2 linked regions of the Homo sapiens genome follow. The protein of the gene in region 2 interacts with the protein of the main gene of each other region in a pairwise test. Each region holds a gene or a part of one and is shown on either strand. Other genes may lie near its edges. The genes, in order: FCRL4 and TFF2.

What was found.
Region 1: the proteins of TFF2 (region 2) and FCRL4 interact in binary tests that used the Homo sapiens proteins (3 or more experiments, as listed by UniProt).

The regions. Positions count from the first base shown.
Region 1 is NC_000001.11:157,594,922-157,603,078, forward strand, and holds the start of FCRL4 (Fc receptor-like protein 4 precursor), read right to left. Parts: upstream 3,165-8,157; 5' UTR 3,024-3,164; coding exon 2,993-3,023; intron 1,428-2,992; coding exon 1,407-1,427; intron 1-1,406. UniProt on the Homo sapiens protein: May function as an inhibitor of the B-cell receptor signaling. May function in the B-cell-mediated immune response.
Region 2 is NC_000021.9:42,347,956-42,355,205, forward strand, and holds the start of TFF2 (trefoil factor 2 precursor), read right to left. Parts: upstream 3,040-7,250; 5' UTR 3,003-3,039; coding exon 2,924-3,002; intron 2,076-2,923; coding exon 1,926-2,075; intron 1-1,925. UniProt on the Homo sapiens protein: Inhibits gastrointestinal motility and gastric acid secretion. Could function as a structural component of gastric mucus, possibly by stabilizing glycoproteins in the mucus gel through interactions with carbohydrate side chains.

The sequences.
Region 1 (8,157 bases), on a different chromosome or scaffold from region 2:
ATAGAGTCTTACTCTTGCCCAGGCTGGACTGCAGTGGCCTGATCTCAGCTCATTGCAACCTCCACCTCCTGGGTTCAAGTGATTCTCCTGCCCCAGCCTCCTGAGTAACTGGGATTACAGGCATGTGCCACCACAACCGGCTAATTTTTTGTATTTTCAGTAGAGATGAGGTTTCACCATGTTGTCCAGGCTGGTCTTGAGCTCCTGACGTCAAGTGATCCACCCACCTCAGCCTCCCGAAGTGCTGGGATTACAGGCATGAGCCACTGTGCCCAGCCTCTGCAGACACTTTTTAAAAAGAAAATTCTGTCTTTAAAGGTTTGGACAGAATACTCTATGTCATCAGTGGGAATGGGGCTGTGTTTCTGCTGAAGAGAATAGAAAACCCTACCAGCTATATTCCTGGGAAGCACCTGGATGCAGGGCCATTGGGACTTAGGCAATAGGTCTTCTACTGGAGGGAAGGAGAGTTGATTTCCTTTGATGTATGCAACTAGACTCTTCTTTGCTCTGAGGAAGCTGCCCCTGCTATGTGCAGGTGGCCCTATGGCCAGGAAGGGACATAACTTTTCATGGCCTTCGTGTGTTTGAGACTGAGTTGATGGGCTCTGAGGTTAACCACATCCCTAGCTGCAGTTAATTCAAGGCACTTTTTGTATTTCATTTCCCCATTCTAGAACCATTAGCAAAGTCTGCCAAGTTATAATCTTGTCTCAGGAAGGGTGTGTGGGAAATAGTCTGTGTCCAAGGCACCGAGGAGGGGAAGAACAGCAGAGTTAGGAGCTGCAAGAGACAGTGCACCTCAAGGGGGCCAAGGCCCTTGCTGGCTCCAGCAGCTCCTAGGGTGCTCTATAGGAATGGCCAAAACACCTGTGAGGCAGCTGCCTATAGAGGATGGGACTTTTTGCTGACCAGTAGGATAGATGGAGACTCAGAGTCATCATAATTTGAGCTATTAACAGAGAAGTGTGTCTCCATGGGATGCAGAAGTTGGGGATAAATTTGTTACACATGGTTAGTGGAAAAGCTGCTGGAGCCCCAGCCTCCCCCTCTGAAGTATTGGCTTATTTCTACCCTTTTCCTCTTGGGATGCTATGCATTCCATCAGGCTTGGCTAGAATCCCACATCAGGCGGGGTGACAGCTCCTCTTCCTGTGGACGCTGTGACACATATCCCAGGCCCTGCCATGTTTAGCCAGCACAATGGCAGTTTTGGTTTAAGAGAGTCACCCCCAAATAGCCTGGTTCTTAGGGTCAGAGTCACCACACGAGCTGATGTCTCTACATCCCTGCAGCACTCAGGAAAAGGATGAAATGGACAACAGGGACTCTTGTAAGTATTTGAGATAAAATATAGTTATTAGGGTATCTAGAGACATAAAGGAGCAAAGAAAATAAGGACTTACCAGATTGTCCACAGACTGGAGCTGAAAGAGAGTAAAGAGCCAGCCATCAGCGTAGGCGAAGAGTCCCGAACTATTCACCCTGAGAGCCCATACACTCATATGCTACTTCCAACCAAGAGGAAGAGAAACACGTTCCATTCCATCCATCCCAGGGAAGCGGGGAAACACAGTGGCCAGACGCTCAGGCTGTGGACTCAGACAGTCTGGTTTGAATTTTAGCTGTATGACCCAGGGCAAACCACATGAACTTTCAAGTCTCAGTTTTCTCATTTGAAAAATGAGGCTCATGAAAGCGACCTCATAGTAATACTGTAATGAGTTAGATCAGTAAGGTTTCAATTAATGGCTGCTGTCATTAATTTTTTAGTATGGGGCTGCTGCTGATTCCTCTTCTCTTGACTCAGAACACTTATTATCATAGCTAATTTGGAACTCAAAATGAGACAGACAGTAGAGGGTAGTAGTTAAAAGCCTAGTTTCCAAAGTTAGATTATGGGTTCGAATCCTGACTCTGCCACTGTACTAGCTGCATAAACCTCAGGGACAAGACCAACATCTTTGTGCCTTCATTTCCTCATTTGTAAATGGGAGTTATAAAAGTTCCACCTGATCAAATGTTAGAGAATTGGATACATTTATACATGGGGTGCCCTTAGAAAAGTGGGATGTAGCCAGGGCTTAGCACAAATTAACTGACATCCTCACACATTATCCTGTAACTATTTGTGTAATATTTTTCTCATATTGTCGAGTCAGATGTTCTTGCATGTGTACGTTGAGGTTCTATTGAGAATGTCACCTCTTGAGGGCAGAATCTGTGTCCTTCAGGTCTCTGCATCCTCTGTGGTGCCCAGCAGTGTGGCATGCCAAGTATACCCATCCACTCACTCCTTAGTTCCTATCATGTGCCAATCACACTAATAGGTCTTCCCTTAGTTGGGGTCTGGGGATCAGGTGGGAACTAGACAAATACGCTTAATAAATATTTAATGAACAAAAGACTGACTGTTCTTTAATTCCCTAGTTTGAGCAACTAGGAAATCCGTGCCTCATTTGGACAAACACTGACAAGTGGTACAAAAGCAGGAAGAAAAAAATCAAAGGGAAATCATCTTATCTCTTCTCTTCTCATGCTCTTTGCAAACATCAGAACAGGTTTGAACTTAGAATACAGAGAAGGAAATAACTATTCTCAGCAGGTGATCCTTTCTACCTGAGTTCACAATCAGGACTTTATCCTTCACAAATAACTCAGTCCATCTTTTCCTCTGGGTCCTCATGCTCTGTGACGTAGGGACTGAACCTAGCCATAGGTTTCTTTTTGCATAAACAAAATAAGTCCATTTGGGGGTAAAATGATTTTCCATAGGCAATTCATAGCAAAAATAGATGAGAAATACATCTTTGGAAATCAATTATTATCATTTTCCCCTTCTACCAGTAAATCATTATCTTTCCTTTTTGTTCATTTTCTGCTGTTCTAAAATGGGAGTAAAAATCCATGATTGCAGCAGCAGAAAAGAGGGCTTTTGCTCATGGTGAGGCTCAGCTTTGCAGCAAGCAAAGGTCTCCTCCCCATCACTTACCAAAGGCCAGCAAGGACGCCCACAGCAGCATGGAAGCCTGCTCCAGGATTGGAGAAGGAGTTCTGAGGAGACAAGCCAGGTCAGCCCAGATTGCCAAAGCAGCACTTGCCTACACCAGCACCAGCAGTGAGCTCAGTAAGCTTCTTCTCTGCATAAAGCTGATTGAGATAATGAAGTGAAAGGGGGAAGTAGAGGAATCTTTCTGAAAACACCAAACAGCAATGTGGACCAGTGTGAGAGAATCCAGACCACAAAAATCAAAATTTAATAGAATTAAGTACTGCTGTGACATCCTGGGGTGAATCACTTCTCAAGGCTAAAGCTACTCTAGTTTCAGAACTCTCTAGGCTCTGTCTTTCAAGGAAATCACAACCTATTCTCTCTGCTACTAGAGATGAGGTGAGATTGCAGGCCTATTGAAATCCACATAATCTAAGGATGTCCCTGAATATCCCCAGAGATGAAGAATTTCTCATTCAACACAGAAAAGGCCTCCTCTGACCGCTGATACCTCTACTGGAACACCTCCAGCAGGCCGTCTGTAGACCTGATGAAACATCTCAATCACAAGACAACTCTCACCTTGTCTGATATATATGAAAATATCCTGACTCATCAGTCCAGGGGGAAACCACAACTTTTGATCTGAGTAGAAGGCAAGCTGAGGAGTAAATTATAGCCCCATCATGCTCTTCCTAGATAATAGGCCATAACATTTTTACTTAATGTCCTAGAATCCAAAATTTGCTACAGGAATGTCTTGGCAAATATATATTGATTGAAATACATATGCCTGGTATCTGGTGGCAGAGAGAAGAAGTTGTGATTTCCTTGAAAGACAAGAGGCTAGAGAGTTCTGAAAATATGATGGCTTTAGCCTTGAGAAGCGATTCACGTCAGGAAGTCAGAGTGGGTATTTAAATAATTCTATTAAATTTTGATTTTTGCCATTTGGATTCTTTCACACTGGGCAACATGCTGTTTGGTGTTTTGAGAAACACCTAATGCTCTCCCTACCCATAACAAACCTGCACACTCTGCTCATGTATCCCAGAACTTAAAAAAAAAATTAAGAAAAAAATGGAAAAATCCGTAGTGACGTTTTTTGGTACGTATAATATTTTGGTATGTATAACTCTTTAAAACTTTTTTATGCTATTATCTTGTGTATATGTATGTGTATATATATATATATATATATATATATATATATATATATATATAAAATGTTAATGGCAAAAAAAAAGAAACACCATGGTGCTTCAGGTATGGTGCCAGGTGCTGGAAGTACAGTGTTAATCAAGACTTGGAAAGCTTTCATTCTGGTGGAGAAGACAGCAAGTCAACAGGAAATTACATAGAAGTGAATTGTATGTAATTTCTGAGAGTCCACTAAGAGGGAAATCTGACCCAGTTCTGGGGATGCATAAGAGGCTTCCCTGAGGAAGTAACATCCAAGCTGAAAGAATATCATTCTAGGACTGAGAGATGAGCATGCACTAAGATGGAAGGCAGTTATCGTGACCATCACCATCACATCAAGATATCTGTGAATAGATAATAGACATAGGATGGATTAAGAGTGGTCTGTATTTTTCTAATATAATGTTTTTCTATATATCTGTAATAATTTATTTTCTAACTAGGGTTTGTATTGAACATCAACTATATTTTAGACAATGTCCATGGCCTTAGAAGAATAAAAAGGTGAATAAAGTGCATCTCTCTTAAAGACTTTAAAAAAGTCAATGTGGTAAGGGCCAGAGTAGACATAGACACAAGGAACCATAAAGACATAGAGCTGTCAAGGCGGCACATGGGTCCTTTGTCTCCTTGCCGTGTGACCGTGCTGTCATCTTTCAGCTGCCTTCATTTGTCCCAGGAGGAGCAAGGGTATAAAATGGCAGTCAAGAACCTGATCTGCAGAATCCCACACATCTGGATGAAATCTTGACTTCACCTCTTGCTAGTTGGGTGACTCTGGTCAAGTACTTAGCCTCTTTCACACTGGTAAAAAGGAGATAAAAATAATGTCCAGCTGAAGTGGATGTTGTTATTGATGTTTGTATGAATACATTAATGACATAGAACTCTCAGCTTAGTCCCTATGCTGAGAACTATTCTGTAATACTAGAAGTAACAAGTATAATGAACTAAAAAGCACTTTATAATTGACATAATATCCTACCAACATTTTTGTATTCCTTATAACACTGGAAAATAGTATTTAGCATGAGTTTAGAACTCCAATATTTATTGACTGACTAAGGATTGAGGGAAGTTGAAATCATATTGCCTGTTTTCTTGTTTCTACCATAAGTTTTGCTGAATGAATAGATTTCAATTAGCAAAATAAAATTTCACATTTATGATGTTATACAAGATGTCCAAACACAAAAATCATATTTATTTACAACTACTGTGTAAATGTTTAAGTTTACGTCAGTCAAGTACTATTTTTGTTGTGGTATTTAAGTCACTGACAGAAATATTTTAGTTATTGGTGCCAGAAGTGTGGTTAGTACTTTGAAACATCAGCCAGGAAGTACATATACCATGATTTATTAAGCAATTGCTTGACTAACCAGGAACTTTTAGATTTTATATTAACAAAGGACAAAAATAATTGTTTTCAATGAGAATGTAAGAAACTGAAATTTTTAAACTTTTCTAATTTTTTTTTGAAAAACATTTAAACCTTTACAGTTTAAAAAATAAATTTTCATTTTGGGGTAATTCTAGATTTATATAAAATAGTAAGGATAATACAAAGAGTTCCCATATAGGAAGCCCTCACCTGTTTCAATTTCCCCTACCGTTATCATTTCACATCATGGGGGTGCATTTATCAAAACTAAGAAACCAAGATTGCTACATTACTATTAATTACAGGCTTTATCCAGCTTTTTTCAGTTTTTCCATTGATACCTTTTTCCTCTTCTAGTATCCCTTCTAAGATACTACATTACATTTAGTTATCTTTGCTCCGTCTCTACATTACTATTAATTACAGGCTTTATCCAGCTTTTTTCAGTTTTTCCATTGATACCTTTTTCCTCTTCTAGTATCCCTTCTAAGATACTACATTACATTTAGTTATCTTTGCTCCGTCTCTACATTACTATTAATTACAGGCTTTATCCAGCTTGTTTCAGTTTTCCATTGACACCTTTTTCCTCTTCTAGTATCCCCTCTAAGATACTACATTACATTTAGCTATCTTTGCTCACAGACGTCTCTTCTCCATCTGTGAGTTTCTCAGTGTTTCCTTGTTTTTCATGACCTTGACAGTTTTGAGGAGTACTGGCTAGGTAGTTTGCGGCGTCTTTCAATCTGGGTTTGTCTGACGTTTTGGTCATAATTAAACTGGGGTTATGAGTTTTCACAAAGAATACTACAGCGGTAGAGTGTCCTTCTCATCACATTGGGGGTATGGAATCTCAACATGACTTATCACTGGTAATGTAAATTGTGATCACTTGGTTAAGGTAGTGTTTGCCAGGTTTCTTCGATGTAAAATTACTGTTTGTCTTTTTCTATATTCTTTCGTTTGGGAGCAAGTCCAGCCCACAGTCAGGGTGAGAGGTGAGGTAGGGGGATTTGTCTCCTTGTTCTTATTTACTTATTCATGTATTCATCCATTCAATCATTTATTTATATCACTATAGATTTGTATATTTACTTTAAACTTTGGTAACAATATAATGCTTTATATATTTTGTTGCTCAAATTGATCCAGCTTTGGTGATTGGGAGCTCTTTCAGGTCAGCTTCTTCTTTGTGCCTTTGAGAAACTCTCATCATTTTCCTTGTTGGAACATTTCTGTACTGTCTGGCACTACGAGATGCTCCTGGCTCATCTTACATTTTCCTGCCCCAACTCTAGAATCAGCCACTTCTTCAAGGAGCCCCAATTCCTTTCAGTAGAGACTGATATTTAGAAACCAAGATCTGAGTGCTGAGTATGGTCTTTACTACTACGGGAGAATCATACATTTTTAACTATGTGACAGGGAGTCTGTGGTCTTGTCAGTGCTTTATGGGTGGGAAAAATACTGGAAAGATAAATTTGTTGTTCTTGCTATTAAAAGACTCTTCTCCCAAATCAGTGGCTGTATACGTAATGATTTCTATAGCCATTTGTTAGTAATGGAGGAACAGCCGCTTGGAGTAATCAACTTTGAACTTCAAAGAAAAGGCAGTGAAGAAGCTCAATTACATTTATTTGTAGGCTGGTGCCATCTAGAAGCCGCATTTTATTTTCCATGACTACAGATAATAATATTTCTAGCCTTCAGTGGTAAAATATAATCTCCTTTTGTTTTAGAGACGTTTCCGAGATGATTTCTTGTTCTAAGTCGAGACTCTTCTATCTTCATGAACATACAGATCTTTTTGCTCAAAAACTTGTCCAAAGTGAGAACAGAATCGCAGGTTGTTAGTGCCCTCTATTCCAGATTCACAGATCCACAGTTATGTAGTAGAGGGTGTGAAATGGACACCAGATTTGAACTCTAAGGCCTGGCTATGGTTTTGCTTCATCACTTACAAGCTATGTAGCTGAAGGCAAATCCATTTTGTTACTTGGAGACGTTAACAAGAAAACTTTCATTTCCCCAATATTTTTATTTCAAAAAATTTTAAACCTTTCAAAAAAATGGCAAGAATAGTACAATAAATACTTACCTGCTCTTCACTGAGAGTTATCAGTTATTAACATTTAGCTATATTTGGTCAGTTTTTCCTGAGGGTTGGCCAAGGCAGTGCTGCTTGAGGGATGTGTCAGAAGCTTGGATGTGCGGGCTGGCTCGTTCCAATGTATTGTACTATGGGATGGAGCTGCGAGCAGGAATAAAAGTAGGAAGCTGTAAGCTTGAAACAGGAGACCAGAGCCTGCTTTCCTTGTCATACCTTGTTCTAGTATAAAATTCCCATTATCTTAAAATGTTATATTTGAACCCAGACTTCTAGGTCATTATGAAGGTATATTTGTCAAAGTAGGAGAATAAAACACATCTTATTAGCTTATTAGATTAATTTATAACTTTTTTTTTTTTGAGACAGAGTCTAGCTCTGTCGCCCAGGCTGGAGCTCAGTGGCGCAACCTCCGCTCACTGTAAGCTCCGCCTCCCGGGTTCCCGCCATTCTCCTGCCTCAGCCTCCCGA
Region 2 (7,250 bases):
GGACTCAGTGTTCTCAGTAAATGGGGTGGTCCCCCGGGCCAAGATGAGAAAAGGTTTGTGGGCACCTTGGTAAGATGGAAAGCGTTTGGACATGGTATTGATTCCCAAAGACACTGCCATTCAGTGGGCGCTCGTGAACAATCCACCATCTGCCTGGTTTCCCTGCGGGGCCCAGCAAGCCTCCCAGCAACAATCTTGGGGATGAATCCTCCTTCTCCAGAGGACGTGCCTGGTTCCACGCACACAGGTGCACGACACACACACAACCTTCCTTTGAGCACTCGTCGGCGTTACAACTTGGGTCCTGATCCCGTGCACTAACATAAAACTCACTCCCAAAGAACCCTAGAAGGCTTCACTTCCTTCCCTAACATTTGAGGGCTGTCAGCCCTTATGTTACTGCTGTCCTATTAAATACCTTCATTTCCCCATGGAAGCTTCTTCAGAAGTCACACTTCAAAAACTAGAGGAGACCTACTATATATATATATATTTTTTTCTCAACTAAAGTAAAACTGATGGCTCCACACACACATGTCTGTTGAAAGAACTAACAGTGTAGAAACAGGGTAGGTGGGAAATTTTCATCTCACTGTTGGCTGACCTGGGTTACCTCTAGACTAACAGTCCAGGCTGGCCCCAGGCTAACCAACCTGGGCTACCTCTAGACTAGCAGTCCAGACTAGTCCCAGACTAACCAATCTGGGCTACCTCTAGACTAACAGTCCAGGCTAGTCCCAGACTAACCAACCTGGGCTACCTCTAGACTAACAGTCCAGACTAGTCCCAGACTAACCAACCTAACCAACCTGGGCTACCTCTAGACTAACAGTCCAGGCTAGTACCAGACTAAACAACCTGGGCTACCTCTAGACTAGCAGTCCAGGCTAGTCTAAGACTAACCAACATGGGCTAGCCCCAGACTAACCAACCTGGGCTAGCCCTAGACTACCTCTAGACTAGCAGTCCTCTAGGCTACCTCTAGACTAGCAGTCCAGGCTAGTCCCAGACTAACCAACCTGGGCTAGCTCCAGACTAAACAACCTGGGCTAGCTCCAGACTAACAAACCTGGGCTAGCCCCAGACTAACCAACCTGGGCTACTAGCCTCAGACTAACCAACCTGGGCTAGCTCCAGACTAACCAACCTGGGCTAGCTCCGATTAACCAACCTGGGCTAGCCCTAGACTAACCAGCCTACGCTAGCCCTAGACTAACCAACCTGGGCTAGCTCCAGACTAACAAACCTAGGCTACTAGCCCCAGACTAACCAGCCTATGCTAGCCCTAGACTAACCAACTTGGGCTAGCTCCAGACTAACCAACCTAGGCTACTAGCCCCAGACTAATCAACCTGTGCTAGCTCCAAACTAACTAACCTGGGCTAGCCCTAGACTAACTAGCCTACACTAGCCCTAGACTAACCAACCTGGGCTAGCCCCAGACTAACCAACCTGGGCTACTAGCCCCAGACTAACCAACCTGGGCTAGCTCCAGACTAACCAACCTGGGCTAGCCCCAGACTAACCAGCCTACGCTAGCCCTAGACTAACCAACCTGGGCTAGCTCCAGGCTAACCAACCTGGGCTACTAGCCCCAGACTAACCAACCTGCGCTAGCTCCAAACTAACCAACCTGGGCTAGCCTTAGACTAACTAGCCTACACTAGCCCTAGACTAACCAACCTGGGCTAGCCCCAGACTAACCAACCTGGGCTAGCCCCAGACTAACCAACCTGGGCTAGCTCTAGACTAACCAACCTGGGCTAGCCCCAGACTAACCAACCGGGGCTAGCTCGAGACTAACCCACCCAGGCTAACCCTAGACTAGCAACTGGGCCTCCTCCGGCCCCTGCTCTGGGCTCCGCCTGTGAAGCTGGGTCCTGGGTTGCCAGCTGCTGGCCCAGGAAGATTCCCTGGAAGATTACCTTGCTTTGGGAGGGGGTGGAAACACCAGGGGACCCCAGTGACACTGGAGTCGAAACAGCATCCATTGTCAAAACACTGGTCACTGGTGATTCCAGGGAAGCCGCAGTTCGTCCTGTTATGGGGGCTCAGCCTGGAGCACTGGCAGGGGGCTGTGGAAAGACCCTCAGTCGGCCCCACCCTGGTACCCCAGACCACACTGCTCCTTCTCTCAGAGGTTCTAGGGGATGCCTCTACTGTCTTGTTGCCACATAGAGAAACACAAAGTCTTATCTTGCCCATATTTAAGCAATGCGGTTTCCTCCTGAGAAGCCGATAGGGCTTTGCTGAAATTGTTATATTAGTTTAAAAGGAAAAAAAAAAAAAAGCCAGGCATGGTGGCTCATACCTATAATCCCAGCACTTTAGGAAGCCGAGGCGGGCAGATTGCTTGAGCTCAGGAGTTCAAGACCATCCTGGGCAACATGTCGAAACCCCATCTCTACAAACAATACAAAAAAAAAAATTGGCCGGGCATGATGGTCCACAACTGTGGTTTCAGCTACTCAGGCGGCTGAGGTGGGAGGATCACTTGAGCCTGGGAGGCAGAGGTTGCAGTGAGCCAAGATCACACCACTGCACTCCTGCCTGGGCGGCAAAGCCAGATCCTGTCTCGGAAAAAAACAAAAACAAAACCCTCCTAGAGGAGGGTGAACAGATGGACCCAAGGCCAAGATCCAGGCGAGAGGTGAGTGCTCTGGGACTCCAAGGACCCTTGGTGGGAATGCCCTCCTGGCCCGACACGGGGCCCGCTGACACCTGCCGTCACTCAGCCTTTCCCTAGGAGGGAGGCCCTTCTTGGAGCCACCCTCCTGAGCAGTGGCAAATCCCATGTGAACAACACACATTGCCAGATGCCTTTATAGCCATTCCCCCTCTCAAGTTAATTTATGGTTGTGCTTTTTTTTTTTCTTTAAGAGAAATAAAGAAAGCACATAAAAAGACCCTCTCCTTCACTTACAGGGTTTCTCACTCCCCGCCAGGGCACATAGCCCCAGGACGAGGAGCGCTGCCAGGAGCTGGGCGTCTCGCCGTCCCATGTCTAGCTCAGCTGCACCCCAGGGTGGCTTGCAGAATGCATGGTGTCCACTGCCGGGTATGTTTTATAATCTCCCCTCTGTTTGTCCAACAAGCAGAGATAACCTTTCTTCTCTGCCCCGTGGCCCCAGCCCTTCCACCGTGGAGGCGAAGAGGAGGCAAGAGGCAGCTGTGCCCTGTGCAGGCGAGGCTTCCGGGCCAGGGTGACTCTCTCCCTGCTCGGTGATACCTCTTCCTGCCCTGGACAGAGAGTTGGGTCATGCCAGGCTGCCAGCGTGGAAAACCGGCCACGTGCAGGTCTGGGGCTGGGCACACACAGGGTCACACCCAGGAAGGGATAAGCTATGCATTTCTATTGATAGAGTGGGCAGGGACCACAGGAATTTAGAAAATATTAGGGCCAAGTTTACTGGGGAAAATGTACAGGCCAGCAGATAGCATGGAAAAGTCCCCTCCCTGAGGAAGGGAAGCATCTCAGAGGAGGTAAGAGACTGCTCCCAGGGCTGTGGTTAGAGCCTCCCCAACCGCAGCACGATGCCCTTTGTCCCATCTTCAGCAGGAGGGGCTGCTCTCCATGGAGATGAGGCTGACAGGGTCAGCGGAGTAGCCTGTGACAGGCAGGTTTTAATAAGTTCATTTTCAGCCAACCCCTGAAATGGGTTATTTTTGTTCCATGGGAATGCTCTACATCTTCTGAAAGATGGCACCTGGGACCCAGCCCATGGCCTTCCTGGGGTAGGATGTGCTGGAGAAGGATTCTGTGGACCTGACAGAGAAGACAGAAGCCAGAGAGTAGACACCCGGAAAGAAAGAGGGAAAAGTGTGGTGGGAAGGACAGAGGGGACCCGAAGTTCCCCACGCCAGGGAAATGACAGGGGGTTGCCAGTCTGTTTCTGATGGTTGAGCAGTCAGGGGCCCAGAGACGCAGGAAACCCAAAATCCTTGGTCCACCACGGGGCTGTCCTCAGGGTCTGGAGAGCAGGCCCCATACTCCAGGCCCCCATCCTCCAGGCCCTCGTCCCCCAGGCTCCATCCTCCAGGCCCCCATTCTCCAGGGCTCCATCCTCTAGGCCCCTGTCCTCCAGGCCCCCATCCTCTAGGCCCTCATCCTCCAGGCTCCATCCTCCAGGCTCCATCCTCCAGGTTTCATCCTTCAGGCCATCATCCTCCAGGCCCCCGTCCTCCAGGCCCCCATCCTCCAGGCCCCATCCTCCAGGCCCCCATCTTTCAGGCCCCTGTCCTCCAGGCTCTTGTCCTCCAGGCCCTCATCCTCCAGGCCCCTGCTCCTCCAGACCCTCATCCTCCAGACCCTCATCCTCCAGGCCCCCATCTTTCAGGCCCCTGTCCTCCAGGCCCTCTTCCTCCAGACCCTCGTCCTCCAGGCCCCTGTTCCTCCAGACCCTCGTCCTCCAGACCCTCATTCTCCAGGCCCCCGTCCTCCAGGCTCCATCCTCCAGGGCTCCTCTGGGTCCGGGTCAAGTACCTCCAGGCTCTCTGCTGACTGTTCACCACTGGGCAACCACAGGGACTCGATCCATGAAAACTCTGGCAAGGTCAGTTTCCTTGTTCTACATCCCTGTCACTTTAGTCACCATCATGATATAAGTGACTGAGTCATTGTTTTCTCTCATATTCCCACCCACCTCTCCTCTCTGCTTCCTCCCCATCAACTCGACTTCCCACCGCTCACTGCAGCCCCTTCAGGATTCCTGCTGCGACCACCTGACCCATGCAAAAGAGACCACTTCTCAGCCTCTCTCACTCTCCTGGCCCTGGCGGAAGCCTGTGTTGTCATAGGCATGCTTCCCTGGAATCCTGCTCAGGCCCCCACGCAGGGACACTGAGTGCCCACAGAGTTGGGAAACCATTACACGAGATGGGACGTCTGCAATAGAGTGGCATCGCTAGTTGAAAGTGGAGCTGTTCACAACCTCCACAACTGTACTTGGTGGCCACGTCCCCATCACATGGGCTCAGACTGGGGGCTGGACATTGACTTTGAGCCCCAAGTCTTCACCCTCATGCAAAAACCATCCTCCTTGGAGATGCAGGCTGGGAAGGGCGCCATGTCCGGAGTCCCTGCCCTGCTGTCATCTGCCGACCTTTGTGCAGCCTGTCCCTTTCGTTAAGAATTTCAGCACTGAGTTCACTGTGTTCCTTGTCATGCTAAGACTTGGCCACATCCCAGCCATCTTCAACATGGCGGTCGATGTTTCATCAAAATTCACAGTCGCTCAGATTTTATTTTTCCTCATCTCTAGGAACTTCCATCTCCACTCCACTTCTGCCACTTCTGCCACCCTCCCATGACCACACTCAGAACTTGAGCTCCACCTCTGAAAGAGGGTATGCAAATGTCCTTTCTGCCCAGGATGTCCTAAGCTCCTAACATTCTCCCTTTGTCTGAATCCTAAAGCCCTCCAATCCCCTATTCCCCTGTGAGCCCCCTCCTGTCTATCCTTCCTTCCTGCTTCTCCAGCCTGATTTCCACAGTGCTCACTTCACCCACCGTCTTCCTCACTGCTGTTTCCCACTGTCTCTGTGCCTATGCCATCTGCCTAGCATGGCCGACACCTACCTTGAATTGTTGCCACTCTCAACGCATGATCTCAGCGCCATCCAGGCACTCAGGGCTGGCGCCCTCCTCTTTCTGTTTATCCTTCTCCACCCCTGCTCACTTCCATTTTGCACACTTTGGGGATGATACTTTCCATCAGTTCACATAGAAAGTCAACAAATGGGAACCACCTCAGCTATCACCCATGTGGACTTCCGCTTTTGACTATGGAGTCACTGGTACCAGGCTAGCCTCCCACCATGAGTAACTCTAAAACTACATAAGTAACAGTCTGCAGATGCTGAGCAGCAGGCAGTGCCAGACAGCGATCCCTGAGAGAAGGGAAACAATAGGGGGAGTCCCATGGCTGCCTTGGTTTCCTGGAGACGCTCTCCAGACTACAGCACAGGGAGGGGAACCCAAATAGCACTGAAGTCCCATCGGGCTGAGGAGACAGAGGTCAGAATTGGAAGCTTCTGAGGCAGGCGGGTTATCAAGGTAAGAGAAGGAAGCTCCAGAAATATAAAAGTGTGTCCTTTGAGCTTTTCATCAAATACTATGCTGTTCGTGCCCACAAGGCCAGGCTAAGTAGCCCCTGGGGACAGAACAATCACTGGGGAGGCTAAACTGAACAACTAGTGTAGGGTTCGTGGGGCTGGAAAGCATTTGAGCTCAGAGCAGCCAGAGGTGTTGACCACTTCAAGCATTCAATAAAGGCCATGCCGTAAAAAGAAGGCTGATCTTTCTAGAGGAAAGCTACTCAAAATCCATTCGAACAAAACTTTAAAACAAGTCTTGCAGGAATCAAGTTAACCTGCAAGTAAATTAACTGCTTGTATTAGTTCACTCAGGTTGCTGTAACAAAATACTACACATTGTGTAGCTTAACCAACAGAAGTGTACTTTCTCACAATTCTGGTGCCCAGAAGTCCAAGATAGGGTGTCAGCACATCTGGTTTCTACTGAGGCCTCTTTCTGCTTGCAGATGGCTTTTTTTCCCCATATCTCACATGGTCTTTCCTCTGTGCACGCACATCTCTGGCGACTCTTTTCTTATAAGGACACCAGTCAAATTGAACCAGGGCCCACCCTAAGAGCCTCATTTTAACCTGATTACCCCTTTTAAGACACTGTCTCCAAATGTAGTCACATTCTTAGGTAATGGAATTTAAGGCTTCATATATGAATTTGGGGGAAATAATTCAACCGATAACACTACCTGAGAGAGCAAAGCATTCAACACTTTACTAATGAAGACAGCAAAACCTAAATACACAACATAACATCCCTAACGTCTAACAGAAAATCAGAAGTTACTAGATGTGTGGAGAGAACTAGGAAATATGGCCCATAATCATTAGAAAAATCAGTGAACAAAAACAGACTTAGACATGGCATAAAATGTTCAAAGATTGAAAGAAAAACATAATATAATAAAGGAACAAAAAGGAATCTCAGTAGATAAATGGAAACTAAAAATTAACCAGGTACAAATTTTAGAAATAAAAAATACAACATCTGAAATGAAAAATACACTGTATGGGTTTTTGATTAGATACTATTAGATGCTGCAGAGGAATGGTCAGTTTACTTGAAGTGAAGCCAGTGCAAGATAAACTATGCGAACTAGAGCATAAAGTGAAAAAGGGCTAAACAAATAAACAAGATTCCAATGACCGGTGAGACAATGTCA